Regions from separate parts of the Homo sapiens genome. Here regions 1 and 2 are each reported to be linked to region 3. The links are microRNA targets in miRTarBase. Many come from high-throughput screens and were not tested one by one. Region 3 holds a microRNA gene; each other region holds the end of a gene's coding sequence.

Region 1 (7,200 bases), not on the chromosome of region 3:
GGTGTGGTGGCGGGCGCCTGTAATCCCAGCTACTTGGGAGGGTGAGGCATGAGAATCGCTTGAACTCGGGAGGCAGAGGTTGCAGTGAGCTGAGATCGTGCCGTTGCACTCCAGCCTGGGCAACAAGAGCGACACTCTGTCTCAAAAAAAAAAAAAAAAAAAAAAAAACTGATTAGCTAAATATCCCTTTCCGGGTTCTATTATCACAGAATCTTTGGCCTGTTCTCAACCTTCTGCCCTGGGAAAAAGTACAGCTCGGATGTACTGTCACATGTTGGCTCTCTTCCCTGCTAGGAACTCTGCACACCAGGGGTCCACCCCTGCTGGATGGGGAGTGGTGGGGCAAGAGGGTGGGCAATGTTTTGATCAGTTTCCAAACAAGCTCTGACACTTCCACCTAAGCCCCAGCTGCGGGTACTGAGCCCCCAACAGGAAGGAGTCCTGTGCCAACATCTCTCTTCCCAGATCTCACCATCCACATGCCCCCTGCAGAGGATCAGAGTCTTTCCTGCACTGCCCGATGGGGCCAACTTCTTGGCTGGGGCACCCTGCTTCTAGTAGGACCAAGATGCACTTTGAGAAGGTGATTAAAGTTACCGCTTGCCCCCCAAATGCTCAAGACAACTGGCAGACCATTTTTGGAAGGTTTACAGCCACCAGTGTCCCAAAGATCAACACACAACAGCAAAAAGGCTGGCATCTCCCTAGGTACTGTTAGTGCCAGAAATTATGTATTCGGTTCCTCCCCTCCCCTGAGCTCTGGCAGGCCCTAGCAACGATTCTAAAGCTTTCCAGGTTTTGATGTCCCCATCTTTTTTTTTTTTTTTCAAGACGGAGTCTCACTCTGCCGCTCAGGCTGGAGTGCAGTGGCGTGATCTTGGCTCACTGCAACTTCCATCTCCCAGACTCAAGCAATTCTTCTGCCTCAGCCTCCCAAGTAGCTGGGATGACAGGCACCGGCAAGCATGCCCGACTAAATTTTTTTTTTTTTTTTTTTTTGAGACAGTGTTTCACTCTTGTTGCCCAGGCTGCAGTGCAATGGCGCGATCTCGGCTCACCGCAACCTCCGCCTCCCGGGTTCAAGCGATTCTCCTGCCTCAGCCTCCTGAGTAGCTGGGATTACAGGCATGCGCACCACCCCGGCTGATTTTGTATTTTCAGTAGAGACGGGGTTTCTCCATGTTGGTCAGGCTGGTCTTGAACTTCCGACCTCAGATGATCGTCCCACCTTGGCCTCCCAATTTGCTGGGATTACAGGCATAAGCCACTGTGCCCGGCCATACCCGACAAATTTTTGTATTTTTAGTAGAGGCAGGGTTTCACCATGCTGGCCAGGCTGGTCTCGAAATCCTGACCTCAGGTGATCCATCCACGTTGGCCTCCCAAAGTGCTGGGATTACAGGTGTGAGCCACCACGCCCGGCCAATGTCCCCATCTTTATCTTTCTCTGTGTCTCTTTGTTTTCTGTCATGTTGTGGACCTCTGTTAAGCTTCTCTAGATCTCCTGCTACAGGTCACAGGAGCTGCAGGCCAGGTGCTCCAAACCGGTTGTCTTCCTTCATTTTGACAAAAGCCCATTTAATGGATGGCAAAGGTGAAGATGGGGTCTGTTACCCAATCTGCCTGGTTAGTGCTGCAGCTGGGATTCTAATCTGGGCAGCTGGATGCCAAAGGCCAACCACAAGGTGATTCTGTCCCTAAAGGGATGATTCCTGACCTCACTGTCCACGCTCACAACACTCCACTCCCGGCCGAGCGCGGTGGCTCATACCTCTAATCAATCCCAGCACTTTGGGAGGCCAGGGCGGGTGGAGTACCTGAGATCAGGAGTTAGAGACCATCCTGGCCAACATGGTGAAATCCCGTCACTACTAAAAACACAAAAATTAATTGGACCTGGTGGCACGTGCCTGTAGTCCCAGTTACTCAGGAAGCTTGAGGCAGAAGAATGGCTTGAACCCAGGAGGCGGAGGTTGCAGTGAGCCAAGATCATGCCACTGCACCCAAGCTTGGGTAACAAAGCGAGACTCTGTCTCAAAAAGAAAAAAGAAAAAGAATACTCCACCCGTTTTCCATCCTGGAACTCTGACCTGGGACAATGCCAATCCTTTGGCCTCAATTTTAGCTTTTTTTTTTTTCTGGAGACATGAGGATCTCGCCATGTTGCCCAGGCTGGACTCAAGCAATCCTCCTGCCTTGGCCTCCCAGAGTGCTGGGATTATAGGCATGAGCCACTGTCACCTGGCATTTGGCCTCAGTTTGACAGTCTAGTCCAGGACCTTGAATGTATGGCTTTCCATCAAAGGCTGCACCCCCACATGCTATAGGCCACAGTTCAAGCACAATAATGGTTTGTACTCAGCCCTCTTAACTCAATGATTCTAGAAAGTTCATGATCCTTTTTAAAATTTTTTGAGATGGAGTCTCACTCTGTTGCCCAGGCTGGAGTGCAGTGGCGCGATCTGGGCTCACTGCAACCTCAGCCTCCCGGGTTCAAGCGAGTCTCCTGCCTCAGCCTCCTGAGTAGCAGGCACAAGCCACTATGCCTGGCTAATTTCTGTAATTTTAAGAGAGATAGGGTTGGCTGGGCACAGTGGCTCATGCCTGTAATCCCAGCACTTTGGGAGGCCAAGAAGGGCAGATCATGAGGTCAGGAGTTCGAGACCAGCCTGATCAACATGGTGAAACCCTGTCTCTACTAAAAATACAAAAATTAGCCGGGAGTGGTGGCATGCACCTGTTATCCCAGCTACTCACAAGGCAGAGGCAGGACAATCGCTTGAACTTGGGAGGCGGAGGTTGCAGTGAGTCAAGATAGTGCCACTGCACTCCAGCCTGGGAAACAGAGGGAGACTCCGTCTCAAAAAAAAAAAAAAGAAGGTTTTTACCATGCTGGCCAGGCCGGTCTCAAACTCCTGACCTCAGGTGATCCGCTCATCTCCACCTCCCAAAGTGCTGGGATTACAACCGTGAGCCACCACGCCTGGCTTCATGGTCTATTGTTGACTCACCCATTATGGTTCTCAAATGCTACTATCCATCCTCTAGTCTGAAACCAGGATCTAAAATCTGTAACATGTGGCCAGGCACGATGGCTCTTGCCTGTAATCCCAGCACTTTGGGAGGCCGAGGCAGGCGGATCACGAGGTCAGGAGATTGAGACCATCCTGGCTAACACAGTGAAACCCCATCTCTACTAAAAATACAAAAAAAAAAAAATTAGTCGGGCATGGTGGTGGGCGCCTGTAGTCCCAGCTACTTGGGAGGCTGAGGCAGGAGAATGGCAGGAACCCTGGACGCGGAGCTTGCAGTGAGCCGAGATTGCGCCACTGCACTCCAGCCTGGGCAACAGATCGAGATTCCGTCAAAAAAAAAAAAAAAAAAAAAAAAATCTGTAACATGTGATGGTCTAGAGTCCAGATTTGTCCAACCCACCTTATTTTGTTGTTGTTCTGTTTTGTTTTAGGCTTTTAGCAGCCTGAAGCCATGGTTTTTAGTTTCTGTCTCTAGTAATAAACAAAAAAGAGGGATGAGGAAGGGGCTTTACTGGTACAACAGAAACTAAGAACCCATGACTGTATTCTCTCCTTGGACACCCCTGGAACAATACTCAAGGTTCTAGAACGATGAGGGTTCTCCCTGAATCTCACCTAAAAGGGCATCTGGAATGCTGATGTTCCACCCTCAAATCTCACACTGGGTCCCTACCCACGGACTAAGCCAGGGTTCTGGAACACCAGTGGTCCATCCATCCAGGCTCTAGAATGACAACAGCCTGTTCACTGCTTCATAGACTGGGTTCTAAAATATTGCCAGTTGACCTCCACATTTTTTATTTTTTGAGATGGAGTCTCGCTCTGTCAGCCAGGCTGGAGTGGTGCAATGGCACGATCTCAACTCACTGCAACCTCCGCCCCCTGGATTCAAGCGATTCTCCTGCCTCAGCCTCAGCCTCCCATGTAGCTGGGATTATAGACGCACGCCACCACGCCTGGCTGATTTTTGTATTTTTAGTAGAGACGGGGTTTCACCATGTTGGTCAGGCCGGTCTCGAACTCCTGACCTCAAGTGATCCCCCCGCCCCGGCCTCCCACAGTGCTGGGATTATAGCCGTGAGCCACCGTGCCCAGCCAACCTGCACATTTTTAACATTCTTGTTCTAGAACACGGTTCTTCAAACTTGAATGTGCTTGAGAATCCTCTCGGCATTTTACTAAAAAGTGGGTTCTGATCAAGTAGACCAGAGCAACAGCCTGAGATTCTACATCTTTTCCTTTAAGGGTGGGAGGAGGAGAAACAGCCCTATTCAACCTGCCCTCTCCTCGTCTGCTGCCTGTGCCGATTCTACATTTATACAAGTGCTTGGGGAACTCCAAGAGTGCTGTACCATGGACCACTCACTTGGATTCAAGAATACAGGACTTGAGGCCGGGCGCAGTGGCTCACACCTGTAATCTCTTTGGAAGGCTGAGGCTGGCGGATCACTTGAGGTCAGGAGTTCGAGACCAGCCTGGCCGACATGGTGAAACCTGGTTTCTACTAAAAATACAAAAATTTGCTGGATGTAGTGGTAGGCCCCTGTAATCCCAGCTACTTGGGAGGCTGAGGCAGGAGAATCGCTTGAACCGGGGAGGCTGAGGTTGCATGAGCCAAGATCGAACCACTGCACTCCAGGCTGGGTGACAGAGCGAGACTCTGTCTCAAAAAAAAAAACCAAAACAAAACACTACAGGATTTGAACTGGGTGTAGTGGCATGCACCCGTAATGCCAACTACTTGAGACTGGGGCAGGAGGATCTTTTAAGCCCAGAAGTTCAAGGCCAGCCTGGGTAACATAAAGAACACAGGGCCAGGCACAGTGGCACTTGCCTGTAATCCCGTCACTTTGGGAGGCTGAGGCAGGAGGATCGCTTGAGCCAGGGAGTTGGAGGCTGCAGTGAGCTATGATCATGCCACTGCACTCCAGCCTAGGTGACAGAGCGAGACCCTGTCTTTAGCTAAAAAACAAAAGAAACCCCCCAGTGATAAATATTTGTTGTCTGAAGTCATTAAATTTCAGGGTGGGATACTCTGCTGTGCGGGGACACAGAACATATGCCAGCCTCAGGCCCCCCACTGCCCAGGGCTCTGGGAAAGTCCCGTTCCAGAACCTCTGCCCCTGCTACCACTGCCACCCACTCCAGCGCCGCAGGACAGAGGCACTCCAGCCTGCCGGTAAAGTGTTTGCCGTTGGGTTTTCGTTTGGCTGGTTGTGTGTACACAGTGTATACAAGTTGAGTTGTACAGAAGCCCAAGAAAGAGCAAGAGACAAAGGGTAGTGGGAGCAGGGGGTGGGGCGGGGGCGAGAACGGGGAGGAGGGGAAAGGAGACCGATAAAAAATAGAACCACATCCAGACAACAATGGGGGATGGGCAGTGGGTGGGGGCCAGACACAGACAAATCGCCGTAGAAAAGGAGTGGGAGGGGCAGAGAGAGGGGACCCTTCTCCCCCCTCCACCTCCCCAAGCCCCTGCCCCAGGTATGTACAATAAATAAGATTAAAAATAATTAACAAGATGCGTTTTCCCCTCCCACCCGACGCCAAATGCCCTGCGGAGGGAATGGCCTTTAGCAAAGATCTTGGCCTGCAGGGGGGACTTGGGGGGAAGGGGTCCCCCAGCTCTCTGAAGCCACCCCACCCCCCCCAGCCATACATAGACTTTTCCTATACATTATGTACAAGGTGGAGGGGGCGGGGGCTGTGGCTGTGGAGGGGGGGTCGGGGCAAGGGGAGAGGGAAACCGTTACTAAATAGACATTTATACATATATATAAATAATTTCTCTGTACACCGAACAGTGGGAGGAATGGGGAGGGAGTGGAGGGGGCTTGGGAGAGGGGGGGAGTCGGACTTTGAACCCTGCCCTGGAGGGGGCAGCACAGACACACCCTGACCCATGACCCCCTTTCCCCGGCGATGGAGCCCAGGTGTTAGCTCCTGAGGACACGGTTCTGTCCCAATTCTCGGTTCATGGAGGAGGCGCCCCCCTCACAAGCTGGGGCGGGGTCACCCGCAGCGGCTGTGGGCCTGTGCTTGGGCCAGCAGGTCACTGAAGGAGTCAAAGAGCTGTTCCAGCCACGGCTGGTTCCGCATGCACTGCTGGACCACCTCCTCCTGGCCCAGGTCCTCGGCGCCGCCCTCGATGGCCAGGGTCTGCAGGGGTCAAACATGGCACTGGGGAGGGTGGCACACCGGCCTCTGGGGAGGGAAGGGGCTGGGGCATGGGGCCTGGGGTGTCAGATGTCAGTGTCCCAGGGAGACCAGGGCTGGGGGCTGCATTCTTAAGTCCAAGACAGAAGGACCTGAACTCTTGGGTCTGAGGCAGGATGGGGCTGGGCTTGGACCCTCAGATCCCAAGAGGAAGTCAGAAAGGTTGGAATCCCAGGGCGATGGGTGCTGTGGGTGGGGCTCACCTGGTCCCGGCAGCGCAGGAAGGTGTGGTATTTATAGTGGTGGAGCGAATGGTAGAGTGTATAGTATCCCGACTTTTCCAGCTCAACCTTGAACTCCTGGGTAGGAGTGGAGATGCCTCAGCCCCTCCAGCCCGGCACTTGGCAGCCCCTCTCCTCCCTTCCCACATACCGCCAGCACTCCCCACTCCCAGCCCCAGCCCCAGTGCCCACCTGGGCTCTGACCACGCTCCTCTTGAGCTTGCTGAGCGTCTTGCGGTTGTAGGGTTCCCCAGCAGGCCGCAGCCGCACAGCCCCCTCTTCCGGAGAGCCCTCCCCACTCTGCTCCACTTGCAGCTGTGGGAACGTGTGCAGAGCATCCTGCGGGAAGCCAATGGGTCAGCTGGATGCTGCCCTGGATCCATAAACCCCAAACCCAACAGCCAGGTCTCAGATCTGTGCCTCAGTTTCCCCCAGGCTGCAGATCAGGAGAGACAACTAGAGTCTCCTCAAAGGACAGAGGAGGCTGGGCCTGACCAGTGATGCTTCCACTGTGCCTTCTGGCCTGGCTCAGATTCTCAATGTCACCCAAAATTCTACCCCAGAATTCCCAGCCCCATCCTAACCATCTACCCCAGAATTCCCAGCCCCATCCTAACCATCTATCCCAGAATTCCCAGCCCCATCCTAACCATCTATCCCAGAATTCTCAGCCCCATCCTAACCACCTACCCCAGAATTCCCAGCCCCATCCTAACCACCTACCCCAA
Region 2 (7,200 bases), not on the chromosome of region 3:
GGGCACCTTGCCTCTAGTGGACAAGGGCCCTGAGCTTTACACAGCCCTCTGTATTTATTAGGCAAAAGAGATAGTGAGAAGCAGGGGTGATTGTCGGGTAATTGTCAGTCCATTTGGCAGTTTGGTTCACAGCAGGCTTGCGAGACTGCATCATTTGAACAGTAGGCGCTAGATTTCCCAGTAGATAAGTTCAAGGAGCCCTGCACCAGGGAGTGATGGCCCCCAGCAAACCCTTTGGTGGCAGGCTCAGTGTGAGTTTACTCACATCCTGCATTCATGATAAACAGTTTGCTGTTTGGTCATATAGCCTCCAGTGGAATGCTGAGTTGGTCACGATCCCTTTGGCCTTTCTTGCTCCCAACAGTGGCAGTCTGCACATAGTGCCCTAGCATTCTTCTTTGTATATCAGAGTATATGTAGAACTACATGGAAGAAAGACTAGTCAGAAAGGATAATGGAGAAGGCATCTGTGTCCCCTGTTACCTGTAGTAACAGCGTATAGTCTGTCTCTCTCCCTATCTCATCTCCTAGTAGAAAAAGAAAACTGTTTCATTTGCAGTCATCTGAATTAGTTTAGCATCAAAGCCTACGTCTTTTGTGATCTAAATAAAATTATTTTTATTACTCTGTTTCTCTAAATCTGCATTATAAAAAGCTAATTTTCCTTTTTATTTTAGGGTGGAATTGCGTTTGTTGCCATAAAAGGAGCATTTAAAGTTTACTTCAAACAGCAGCAATATTTACGACAGGCACACCGCAAAATTCTGAATTATCCAGAACAAGAAGAAGCATAAAACTGACTTCTGGTTGTTCTGCAGTTCTCTCATCCTTATGAATCTGTTGTGTTGTTTTGATTCCATCATTAATGCACTTGTGGAGACTTGTGATAAGCTGCTGCTCCTATATTTTTTAAGAAATATAATAAAGCACTTAGGGCAGGGGAAATCATCTCGGTAATCATGGAACCTAAGGATGTGATTTGTTTTCATTGTTTGTATGTACTACTTTTATGGCAGTCATATGAACCATTATCTTAGCATGGTAAACCTGGGTTTTGTTCATATTTTCTCCAGACAGAAATGCAAAGATCAAACTGTGCAAATATTAAAAAAATGCACATGCTGTTTTATTCAAATGCCTCTTTTGTACATGTTCATGTTTAGTGTTTTCTCAGAATCAGCAACTCAAGGTACTATGAGGATTTTTCTCACTGACATAATTTGATTACATACTAAATAAGAGGATATGTTAATATGAGGAAATGTAAATTAAATTAGTTATAAATAAATAACCAAAAATGTATGTAAACATTCAAATGATTATCTGAACAAATGAGATTTTGTGGTGTTTTCTTTAACCCATGTGATGTCCTCCAAAATGTGTAGGGTAAAAATTCACAGGGCTTCCAGATCACTTTTTCAATATTAAATTTTATTTACATAATGTTGACATCTCATACTTCATGAAGTAATTTTGACTCATGCAGTCGTGTGTGTGTGTGTGTGTGTGTGTGTGTGTGTGTGTGTATTTGTGTGTTTCAGTGTTTCATCAGGTCCTTCCATCTCTGGGAGTTTTTTCAACCCATATTTCTAGAAATTACAGCTGCCAGTTTATAGTAGTTTGAGCAGAGGATGATTTGCAAAAATAAAAATAAAGTTATTTTACTCTCCTCTTGCATTGATTCAGTTATTGAGATATTCGTTGATCACCTCCTATTTCCCAGGCACTGTGCAGAGTGCTGTAGGACATAGTGGTGAACAAGACAGACTTGGTCCAAGCTCTTACAGAGTTGACAGTCTAGTTTCAGCACATAGAAAACCAGCAGTGAATAAACCAAGGTGAGGCCTTGAGCTCTTTGTTTTTATATTAATGAGGAGAAAAGTATGAAAACAAGAAGTCTTAAGTAAATATTGAGGTCATTGTTTTTGGCTTAAGTTTATTATAGAAAATCAACACTAATGTTTTTAGATTTTAATTGTCCTATTGATGAGGCTAGCACCTTAATCACTGTTTAGTTTTGTATTCATTTTTAAAAGCAATTATTGAAGCCATTTTCAATAGATTGGCCATTTTAATGTTCAGCAACCTGAATGGTTATTTTTGTTAATTAAAATTAAATTTTTAAGAGATATTTTCAAAACCCTATTTATTTTCTTGTTCACAGTAATGCATGTCAATAATAAATGTTTCCCCTTACTGATAAGCGGCCACTTTAGGAGTGTAGCAAATATAGATTGAGCTATGTTAGTTTGCAATAATATATGTTAACTTTAGTAATTAAAGACTGGTTTCTATAGTATGAATGTCTTAATTTTGAGTTATATGATGTTTATTTGAATGACTGTTGAACATTCAAATTTGTATTATTTGGAGATGAAGATTTGACTAACAGTGAGCCTTATTAAGAACACTACTACAGTTCTGAAGGGGAAATATAACATCTATGGTTATATATTTTAAAAACTTAGATTATAGGCTGTAATTATAAAATATATTGGCTTTTGTTTTCAATGTGAAAGATACATTAAATGGACACATATCTTGCAAAATTTTGTTGTATAGAACAGTTTTTAGGCAGCCTTTACTAAAGTTATGCAAACACACAGTTCCCCATTTACTACATTAATGCCCTTGACAGGGAGTAGCTGCTTGGTTTTATAGGTATTAGGGCTCATGAAGGCCGGGGAACAACTCTAATCCTTTTGGGGCAGGAGGGAGGGTTTTTTTAGGGTTGCGGGGAGGGAACTGCAAGTGCCTGAGGACCAGAGTGGCCTCTAGCCCCGAATTGAACACTTTTAAACCTAAAGAGCCTTATTATTATTAGCTCGAGAAATACCACATGCCAGTCTTCCCAGGAAGGTGACCTGCCTGACCATGAAGCAACAAAAGAGCATAGGCAGACTTAAAGTTGGATAGACCTGGGTTCAAATCATAGTTCAGCTTTCAATAACTGTATGTATGATTTTGGCTAAAGGATTTGACTTTCTCTCAACTGCAGTTTTCTTAATCTTTGAAATGCAAATAATGTTTATCTCAGAAGACTATTTCTAGGATTAACTGAGAGATTAAAGGAACAGCAGCACTTAGGCTCAAAATCGCCCCTACAAAGCAGTAGTTGTTTCTTAATTGCTAAGTAATCTGTTTGCACTCTAGGAAAAGTAAATGGAGAGGTAAAAGAAAGGCATTGGGGACAAATGAAAGAGATGATGTAGATTTTTCGGATGGGTGGGTATATTTTATTTTCCAGTTTATTTTCATATTTCTTTACTGTGTTATTTCTGGAAACTTTAATGTTTTAAACCTCTTTTATAAAATTCAATGACGACTACTAGAATTCTTTTCAAAAGTTAACTTATCTCCAAAGTGGCTGAAAATATTGTTTACCATTACATGATTATGAAATGACTGTGAAGAATATAAAATTAAACTTAGTGACTTAATTAGTCACTGCCTTGCTAACTTTGCTGTAATTTTTTTAAACGTCTTGTTTTTAATATAGCAAACTATCTCAATACTGGCTGGATTAGGTTAAATAAAGAATTTTTATGTTCTCTAGGTGTACTTTGTTAAATCTCAAAACATTCTGTACATACATAATTTTTTTTAATCACAGTTATCGAGATACTAGTTTTTGTAAGTAAAAGTAATCTGAATTTAAAAAAAAAACTGTATGGAAGAATTTGTCCTAATTTTGTAAACAGGCTAGCCTATATTCTAAGTATGTTCTAATGACTAAACTACATCCCCACTCACCCACCCTCAAAGCCTCTTGCACTGAGTATAATTAAGCAACTAGACAAGATCTGTGGGTGGTCTCATGCCATGATGTCTTAAAGTGTATTCGAGTGAGTTGGGAACACAAACTGCTTCTGAGATATTAAGAACTTAAATTTCTGAAGTAGAAGATTAGAATCCTCTAGAATGAGTTAAAGGTCTTTTCCTTGCATCCATTTGGGGATTATATTGGTTTTAAGTCATTTCATTACCCCATCTGAGAGACAGATGCTAAGAGGAGAAAGGGCATAGAATTGAACAGTCCTGGATGCATATGCTAGCTGACACTTGATTAGCTGTAGGGCAAGTTACTTTACCTCTCAGATCTTCAATTTCCTCATCAGTAAAATGAAGATTATAAAGTCCATCTCCTGGGTTATTGTGAGGATTGAGGTAACATTCTAGGACAGTTTGATACATAAGGAAACTAAATCTCAATTTAAGTGCATAGTAGAGGTTTTGCCTACAGCCTTTTTTGGTCCACTGGAGTCAAGGTTGCTGTTTATGTGCTACTTGCCACCCAACGTGCCCATTAGAAATGGTAAGAGTGATGGAGTGTCTTGTTTAACAATTGCCTTCCTGAAACAAGGATCCTGAGCAAGGAGAATAAAGGAGGGGTTTGCATCTGAATACCCGCAGAAGCCTTACGGACAAGCAACAGAGGCTAGACCATCATTCTGGTCAATCCCGAGTGAATTTAAGCATTTTTCTGAAAATAGCTAGGCCAGGGTTACTGTATGCCAACAACATACACAACTCAAGTAGATATTTGTTGACCTATGTATGTGGCTAGATATTGTGCTCAGTCCTGGGGTTTTAAATAGTGAATAAGCCTGCTTTGAGATAGAGTCCTAAACTGCATAACAGATCTTACTATGATATTACTGTCATAAGAACATAAGATCCATAAGGTTAAAATGCTTTTTGTTTAGTTTTCTTTACACTTCCCACACTAGAACAGCACCCGCACATGGTAGGAGCATGATTGAACATTTTATGAATTTGGGAAAACACTCCTTTTTAAGATCAAAACACTTATCTTGATCCTAGTTCTTTTGGTCTCCTGAGTTTCTAAAAATTTAAATATAGTTAACCTCTTTCTGCCACTTTTTTTTTTTTTTTTTTTTTTGGCAAGAAAGCAACTTTGAAAAGGCATAAAACTGCCTGTAATCCCAGCACTTCAGCAGGCCGAGGCAGGAGGATGACTGGAGCCCAGGAGTTCAAGACCAACCTGGGCAACATTATGAGACCCTGTCCCTACGAAAAAAAAAAAAAAAAAAGCTGAGTGTGGTGGCATATACACCTGAGGTCCTAACTACTTAAGAGAGAGGCAGGAGAATAGCTTGAGCTCAGGAGGTAGAAGCTGCAGTGAACCATGATCACATCACTCCACTCGAGCCTCAGCGACAAAACGAGTTCATGTCTCGAAAAGATGGCCAGGCGTGGTGGCTCACACCTGTAATCCCAGCACTTTGGGAGGCTGAGGTGGGTGGATCACAAGGTCAGGAGTTTGAGACCAGCCTGACCAACATGGTGAAACCCCATCTGTACTAAAAATACAAAAATTAGCCGGGCATGGTGGTGAGTTCCTGTAATCCGAGTTACTTGAGAGGCTGAGGCAGGAGAATTGCTTGAATCCGGGAGGCGGAGGTTGCAGTGAGCGAAGATAGCGCCACTGTACTCCAGCCCGGGAACAGAGTGAGACCCTGACTCAAAAAAAAAAAAAAAACAAAAGATATAAAACCACTTTAAGTCAGGTAATTATGAAGGGTACAACACTAATCAGCAAGACTACCTAAGAAGGAACAGCATTGACCTGACCCCTTCAGAATGTTAGTTTCTCACCTTTAACACCTGGAATCAGCAAAAACAGCAAACGAGTACCTGCGCACTAGCTTGTCTTCCGGGAGCCACTAGGACACCTTTAATAAAAGTCACCTAAGAGAAAATGAGGCACTGTCACACTTTGCTGCCCTTATGGTTCATTCATGTAGAGAAATCAATTTATTCATTGGGATCTACTTGGTAGCTCACAGACCAGTGTGAATGTCAGGAATTTGGGCATGCTGTGGTTGAAGGGCTTAATGTTTAAGCCAATCGCTGTCTTCCAGTGAAGAGTGCACACCATAATAGAAATCTTTCAGCAATGTCATCTTCACTTCGGTGAGCTCCTTCACACACAGACAAGAATTTATTGAACAATAGTAGGGCTTCCGTTCCAACTTTTGAAATATGTTGCCACCTCAAAAAGCGCATGGACTCTGAATACCTGTCCCTCAGGGTAATATGCCTGCTAAAGTCAAATAGGAAAATGAAAGAGGATTTTTTCCTCAAACAAATTCAAACCCACCATTATCTTATTCAAAAGGAAAGACCACAACTGTGTGGACATTTTACTATTTCCATCATTAGAACCCTGACCACTTGGCCATACACTCATTTGTATACTTTCAGATTTCCAGAGCCCACACTACAGATGCTCAACAGGACCTCTGCAACATGACATAAGTAATGAAGTACATTTTTTAAAGTAAGCTTTTTGTAAGTTGAAATATATATACATGCACAATTATATGTGAAGCTCATAGCAGTACTATTCACAATAGCCAAAAAGTGGGAACAATACAAATGTGCATCAACTGATAAGTGGATAAACAAAATATGGCTTATCTATACAATGGAATATTATTCAAGCATAAAAAGGAATGAAGTACTGATACGTGCTGCAACGTAAATGAGCCTTGAAAACATCGTAAGTGAAAGGAACCAGACACAAAAGACTACAGATATGATTCCATGTATATGAAAAATCCAGAATAAACAAATCCAGGAGACAAAGTAAATTAATAGTTTCCAGGAGCTGGAGGGAGGGAAAAATGGGGAATGACTGCTAATGGGTACAAGGTTTCTTCTGGGGACGTTGAAAATGGTCTGAAATTAGTAGTATTGATTGTGCAACTCTGTGAATACACTAAAAACCTCTGGATTGTACACTTCAATTAAAAGGTGAACTTTATGGTAAATGAATTATTTCTCAGTAAAGATTGTTTTTTAAATTTTTAATGTTTGTGGGTACCTAAGTATATATATATTTATGGGTTGCATGAGATATTTTGATACGGCTGTGCAATGCATCAAAATCATATCAGGGTAAATGGTGTATCCATCACATCAAGCATTTATCATCTATTTGTGTTACAAACCAATCCAATTATACTCTTTTCATTATTTTTTAATGTACAGTTATTGACTATAATCACCCTGTTGTGCTACCAAATACTAGGTCTTATTTATTCTATTTTTTGTGCCCATTAACCATCCCCACTTCTCCCCACACCCCCTGCCACTACCCTTCCCAGCCTCTGGTAACCATCTTTCTACTCTGCATCTCCATGAGTTCAATTGTGTTTTAATTTTTAGCTCCCA
Region 3 (7,200 bases):
CTGCGATCAGGGGAAGGGTGGAAGCCGCACACCAGAGCACCCTTGCTGCTCCAGGGCTGTCAACGATCTTCTCATACTCAGAGACTCGCTCGCCCCTGTGTCCTTTCATTCCTTCCTGCAGGCACTTCTGGAGCGGGTAGCGTGGTGAGATTTCTCACACAAAATTTGCTACAAAGCTACAGTAGACCACGTAGTGTGGTAGTAACATAAGAACAGACGTATAGATCAATGGAATAAAATAGAGAGCCGGGAAACAAACCCTTGTCTTCAATAGTGCTGGGAAAACTGGATATCCACTTACAAAAGAATGAAGCTGGACCCTTACCTTATACCATGTGCAAAAATTAACTCAAGATAGATCAAGGACCTAAACTAAATCTTCATAATCTTTGATTTGGCAAGATTTCTTGGATGTGACACTAAAAGCACAGGTAGCCAAAGAAAAAAATAGACAAATTTGGCTTCATCAAAATAAAAAACTTCAGTGTATCAAAGGTCACTGTGAAGGGAATGAAAAGATGGCCTACAGAATGGGAGAAAATACCTGCAAATCACACATCTGATAAGGGACTACTATCCAGAATATGTTAAAAGCCCCTACAACTCAACAACAACAAACCAAACAACCTAATGTTAAAATAGGCAAAGTAATTCAATAGACAGTTCTCCAAAGAAGATACACAGATGGCCAATAGGCACAGGAAAAGATGTTTAAAATCATTAATCATTAGGGAAATACAAATCAAAATCACAATGAGATACCACTTCACATCTATGAGGATGGCTGGTAATAAAAACAAAAACAGAAAACAACAAATGTCGGTGAGGATGTGGCTAACTTGGGACACTCGCATATTGCTGGAGGGAGTGTAAAATGGTGCGGCCACTGTGGAAAACAGCCTGATTGTTCCTTGGTGGTAATACAGAATTTCCATATGATCCAGCATATTCCACTCCTAGGTATATACTCAAAGTAATAGAAAATAGGAACTCAAACAGATGCGTGTACAACAACCTTCATAGCAGCACCGTTCATAATAGCCAAAAGGTAGAAACAACAGAACCGTCCACCAGCAGATGAACAGATAAACAAAATGTGGCAAATGCATGCAATGGAGAAGGATTCAGCCACAAAAAGGAGTGGGATTCTGATACCTGCTATGACACGGATGAGCACCAAAGACATTATGCTAAGTGAAATAACCCAGACACAAAAGGAAAAATATTGTGTGATTCTACTTCTTTGAGTGACCTAGAATAGGCAAATTCACAGAGACAGAAAGTAGAATAGAGGTTTGGCAGGAGCTGGGGGAAGGGGAAATGCGGAGTGATTGCTCAACAGGTACAGAGTTTCTGTTTGGGATGATGAAAAGTTACATACAGCATTGTAAATGTCCTTATTGCCACTGAATTGTACACTTAAAATGGTTAAAGTGGTAAATTTTATATTATGTATATTTCACCATAGTAAAAAAAAGTTTTAAATACACATTCCAGGGCCCCACCCTTAGAAAGCCTCAGAGGCGGCCGGGCGAGGTGGCTCACGCCTGTAATCCCGGCACTTTGGGAGGCCGAGGCAGGTGGATCACCTGAGGTCAGGAGTTCAAGACCAGCCTGGCCAACATGGTGAAACCCCTTCTCTACAGAGATACAAAAATTAGCCTGGCATGATGGTGGGTGCCTGTAATCCCAGCTACTCTGGAGGCTGAGGCAGAAGAATCACCTGAACCTGGGTGGCAGAGGTTGCAGTGAGCCGAGATAGTGCCATTGCGCTCCAGCCCGAGTGACAGAGCAAAACTCCGTCTCAAGAAATCCTCAGAAGGTGATACAGTAAATATGGATGGGGTGGGAATCTGGAATCTGTATTATTATTATTATTATTTTTAATGCCTTCCTATCTTTCTCAGGCATAGTCAGGTTTGGAAACTTATGATTTAGTCTCTGCCAGTTCTTTCCAAGGGGCTGGTGCGTCTGTAAGGAAGTGTTCACCAGTCTACGTGAAATACATGTGTATTTCTCATGCATCTGAGTGTATTAAATTTGAAGTCCTGTTTTAAAATCTGAGATTGTCATGATTACATTGTTTTGGGGTTAAAGTGTCCAATCATCTCCCACCATAAAATGATGGTGACAATAATTCAGGTTGTTTTTTAAGTGTCTGTGCTTGGCAAAATAGAAGTGAGCAGTCCTATGTTAGTCTCTCAAAAGGTTTTCAAAATTTTAATGGTTTGTTAAATTCCAAAGATTGGGAACCATTCCTCCAGACACCATCCCTTTGAAAATACTGAAATAGAAACTGCTTCTGCTGTTTATTTTATTTGTGCCAGAAAGAAAAAAAAAATGGAAAGGACCTATACATTTTTCTGTGGTTCATAGGACCTGGAGCAACAAAGGGCAGCATTGAAACTGACAGCATTGACATGTAATTTGTCCTGCTGCCTGTTGGAACGTTCTTTTTCAGATGCTGGAGGAGCATGACAGAGGAGAGGTGGAGGTAGGCGAGAGTAATATAATTTCTCCAGGAGAACATCTGAGAGGGGAAGTTGCTTTCCTGCCCTGGCCCTTTCACCCTCCTGAGTTTGGGGGCTGTGGTGGGGCAGGGATTGACCAACAGCCATTCCTAGGGGATGGATGCCTTTGCATTCCAGAGGGCAGCTGGCTGAAGGGAGTGCTGAGTCTGTGGGAGCCATAGCCCGCCCCACCCTTTAGGCAGATTAGTTAATTATTGAAAAGTGCCTCAGAAGCACAAAGGTCTGGAGAGACTCCATGAGCTATTGCTCAGGCCCGTGTGGGAGCTGGCATTTCTGAGGAGACACTGAGACTCTTCTAGGAGGCTGTGGAACAAGAAATAGTTCCTTCCCATTGTGGTGCAGTCCTTTCAGGTTTGGTGTAGAGAGACAGTTCCAGAGAATTCTTATACAGTGCATATAACTTCTCAAGAGAGAAGTTAAATTTATTTGTCTTAGGATTTGTGAAGTATTTAGATAAATGAACCACATCAGATATTTTCCGTTGTTTTAATTTTTTGTGTGTGTGGTTTTAATGTTTTAAGGACATTCAGGTCTTTTTTTTTTTTTTTTTTTAAACGGAGTCTTCCTCTGTCACCCAGGCTGGAGTGCAGTGGCACAATCTCAGCTCACTGCAACCTCTGCCTTCTGGATTCAAGCAATTCTCCTGCTTCAGCTTTCAGCTTCCCGAGTAGCTGGGACTACAGGTGCGCGCCACCACGCTGAGCTAATTTTTGTGTTTTTAGTAGAGACGCGGTTTCACCATGTTGGCCAGGATGGACTTGATCTCGTTATCTGCTCACCTCGGCCTCCCAAAGTGCTGGGATTACAGGTGTAAGCCACCACACCCGGCCCATTCAGGTCATTTATGCATAAACGATCACATGACATGTTCTGTTCTCTGACTTACTTTTTTCTTTTACTTAACAACATTCCCTGTAGCTCTTTCTGTGTTAGTGCATATAGGCATCCCCCATTTTAACTGTTGCATTCCTTCTAGATGTATCATAGTTTCTTTACCCACTATTTTAGCAAAGGATCACATAGGTGGTTTTCCATTTTTCACCATTACAAACAATGCTGCAACAAATGTTCTTATACACAAATGGGTGTGTGTATGTATGAGTGTTTCTGAAGGATATTATTTCTAGAAGTGGAATTTCTGGATCAAAGGGCATGCACATTTAAAATTTTTGTAAATAATATTGAGTTTCTCCCCCAAAATTCTGTTCTGATTTTTATAGCCACCATTATACTCATCAGCGTTGGACATAATCATTTTGTTAAAACTGCCAGCGTCATGTGCAGAAAAAACAGTGTCATTTTAAATTGCATTTCCTGGATTTACCAGTTAGATTGTTCATTTTATCATATGCCTATTGACCATTTCAATTTTTGGAACTTTTAGAAATAAAAATACAGAAAAGGTGTATAGGCTGGTTGCAGTGGCCTACTGACCATTTCAATTTTTGGAACTTTTAAAAATAAAAATAGAGAAAAGGTGTATAGGCTGGTTGCAGTGGCCTACTGACCATTTCAATTTTGGGAACTTTTAAAAATAAAAATACAGAAAAGGTGTATAGGCCGGGTGCAGTGGCTCACGCCTGTAGTCCCAGCACTTTGGGAGGCCAAGGCGGGTGGATTGCCTGAGGTCAGGAGTTTGAGAACAGTCTGGCCAACAGGGCGAAACCCTGTCTCTACTGAAAATACAAAAATTAGCTGGGCATGGTGGCAGGTGCCTGTAATCCCGACTGCTCGGGAAGCAGAGGCAGGAGAAACGCTGGAACCCGGGAGGCGGAGGTTGCAGTGAGCTGAGATCTCGCCACTGCACTCCAGTCTCGGCGACAGAGCGAGACTCCATCTCAAAAAAAAAAAAAAAAAAAGAAAAGAAAAAGGAAAGGTGTATACATTAAAGGTGTACTGATCAATGCATTAAGACAAAGTGAACTCTTCCTTGTAATCATGTCCCAAGTCAATAAATAAAATATTATAAGACCTTCTCCCCAAAAGAAGACTCTCCCCTGAAAAAGATCGACCTCCTCCAAAGTAATTCCTACCCCAACATCTAAGTGCTGTAGATTAGTCGTTCCTGTTTCCTACTGTCATATGAACAGACTCATACAAACATGCACTCTTCTGCGTCTAGCTTCCTTCATTCGCATTACGTTTATGAGTCTTTCACGTACTCGTGTGTAGCTGTAGTATGCTCATTTACATTGCTTATTGTATTGCATTATGTGAATATATCACAATTTATTGATTGATGGACATCTGGGTTACATCTGTTGCCAACTTTCAGTTATTAATGAATAATGTTGCTAAGAGCATTATCGTGCATGCTCTTTAGTATAGCTGTGCATCATCTCTGTTGGGTATATATCTAGGAACAAGATTCTGGGGTCATCAGCATTGTTCTGTTCAACTCCACCAATTGCATTTGTGAATTTCTTATGAATATTCTTTGCACACTTATTATCGGGTGGTTTGTGTTTTATTATTGACTTGTATCTGTCCTATTTACTCTGGATGTTAGTTCTGTTGTAAATATTCTCTCTTAGTCTGTATATAGGCCCTTTTATTTTACAAAGTTTAAAGTTTTTATGCAGTCAAATCTGTAATTCTTTTTCTTTATGGTTTCTGGTTTTATATCTTGCTTAGAAAGTCCTTCTCTATCTCAAGATTGTAAAATACTCTCTTATGTCTTGTCTCCTTTTTTTTTTTTTTTTTTTTTAGACAGGATCTCACTCTGTTTCCAGGCTGGAGTACAGGATATGATCATGGCTAACTGTAGCCTCAACCTCCTAAGCCCAAGCGATCCTCCCCTCTCAGCCTCTTTAGTAGGTGGGACTACAGGCATGCACCGCCATACCTGGCTAATTTTTTAATTTTTTGTAGGGACAGGGTCTTGCTATGATGCCCAGATGGTCTCGAACTCCTGTGCGCAAGCGATCCTCCCGCCTCAGCCTCCCAAAGTGCTGGGATTACAGGTGTGAGCCACTGCATGGGGCCACATTTCCATTTCCTTCTAATACTCATTTTGATTTTTTACTTTAGGCTTTTTAGTCAGTATGGAATTTATTTGTGAGGGTGAGAAATAGAGGCTAATTTATTATCTAAATTAGGGGATGAGTAAAATGATACCATTTGCTGCCTAAGTTTTAAAAATATTTATTTTATTTTATTTTTATTTTTGAGATGGACTCTGGCTCTGTCACCCAGGCTAGAGTGCAGTGGCGCGATCACGGCTCACTGCAACCTCCACCTCCCGGGTTCAAGCGATTCTCCTGCCTTAGCCTCCCAGATATCTGGGATTACAGGTGTGCACGACCGCGCCTGGCTAATTTTCATATTTTTAGTAGAGACAGGGTTTCCCCATGTTGGCCAGGCTGGTCTGGAACTCCTGACCTCAGGTAATCCACCCGCCTCGGCCTCCCAAAGTGCTGGGATTACAGATGTGAGCCACCACACCCGGCCTCAAATATTTATTTTTAACATCTCAAAATAAGTTCTAACATCAAAGAACTAAAAAACTATCAACAAAAAAATTTTTTTACCTCAGAATAGTCTCCTCTAAGTTAAGCCTGAGTTAGATTCTAAATAGGGCAAATGTTCTAAGTCAGCGGTTGCCACCCAAAATGCTATCTATGCATATAAATGGTCAGTGACTTATTTATTCACTTACTATGTATTTATGGAATTTAAAGTGCAGTTCCCTTGGACTTACGTGTCTAACGAGGAAGAAAGGCTTCATTCTGGGACCTTCAGGGTAGCCTGGCTTGCACACTGGATCTAGGTTCACGGGTCATGAAAACTACAGTGGCTTTCTTCCCTCCCAAGCCTCCAGCTACTCCCAATCTGAGCAAATGGCCCCCAGATGGATTCTATGTTCTGAGTCCGTCCCCAGGACAGAGGGAGGTCCAGTTTGAGCTTTATTACAAATCCTGTAGGTCGGCTTTAGATTATAGACATGGCTTCCTCAGGCAAGGCTGCCCACTTGAGGGAAACAATTTTGTTGGCTGGCTGGGTGGTTGGTGTAGGGCTCACATTTGGGAGTTCACTCCTTTCTCTCCCTTTGTCTGAAACGATCAGCACCTTGTTGTGCCTGTTCACTAGCAGTACTCGGCACACAATCGTTTGTTGTGCTGACTCTCCAGTTGCTCGCAATGTGAGGTGGATTTGTTCTACTTCTTCCTTGTGTATTCTTGGTGAAGGCCGATAATTTGCTACTTAGTTAACAGACATGTTATAGGGCTGGAGCCTGAGATAAGGTCAGGAGGAGAAACATCCCGCTTAGCTTGACAAAGAGCTTGGTTTAAGGCTGGAGAGCTGACTGTGCAATTGTCTGAGCTGCTTTTCTTGGAAATGGCTCTCTTGGCTGAGCTCCAGAAATATAATCAAAAGTGGCCTGAAATCACAAGTTTTGCTGCTTGCATTCTTAGTTTCACAATTTAAGGATTTGGCTGGTGCCTGTCCTGAAAGTGTGGAATTGTCTACTGTTTGCTACACATGACGTTGAGTGAGTGTGTGTCTATGTGTGTACACACACATGCATGTGCAGGACACAGGGATTGTCTGCGTGGGCATGTTTTACAGTCCAGCTGTTTGTACCTTCAGGGAGGCAGTGATTAAAGAGCAGTGTATGGCAGGTTTTCTTTGATTTCAAGAATCACATATTTGGTTTTGTAGTTAGTGT

The links. Region 3 holds the annotated microRNA hsa-miR-6076 (AGCAUGACAGAGGAGAGGUGG, at 2,472-2,492, shown strand). A microRNA usually pairs through its seed, bases 2 to 8, with sites in the 3' UTR of a target mRNA and lowers its output. Matches are read on the target gene's strand: a 7mer-m8 pairs with bases 2 to 8, a 7mer-A1 pairs with bases 2 to 7 and ends in A, and an 8mer does both.
Region 1: the mRNA of PRR12 is a reported target of hsa-miR-6076. The part of its 3' UTR that is shown has no 7-base or 8-base seed match.
Region 2: the mRNA of MARCHF5 is a reported target of hsa-miR-6076. Seed matches in the 3' UTR shown: 7mer-A1 at 1,479-1,485.

What each region holds. Positions count from the first base shown.
Region 1 is chr19:49,624,455-49,631,654 of GRCh38, reverse strand. It overlaps PRR12 (proline rich 12), which reads right to left. Exons shown (of 14, transcript NM_020719.3): 12 at 6,665-6,811; 13 at 6,455-6,550; 14 at 5,216-6,194. The coding sequence ends at 6,048. Among named protein-coding and RNA genes, the nearest start is that of RRAS, 12 kb to the left of the region's middle.
Region 2 is chr10:92,350,414-92,357,613 of GRCh38, forward strand. MARCHF5 (membrane associated ring-CH-type finger 5) reads left to right here. Exons shown (of 6, transcript NM_017824.5): 6 at 678-3,551. The coding sequence ends at 794. Among named protein-coding and RNA genes, the nearest start is that of MARCHF5, 63 kb to the left of the region's middle. RefSeq lists an enhancer at 1-391.
Region 3 is chr14:49,963,928-49,971,127 of GRCh38, forward strand. It overlaps MIR6076 (microRNA 6076), which reads left to right and starts at 2,472; the gene lies at 2,472-2,584. RefSeq lists silencers at 1,269-1,338, 6,684-6,978.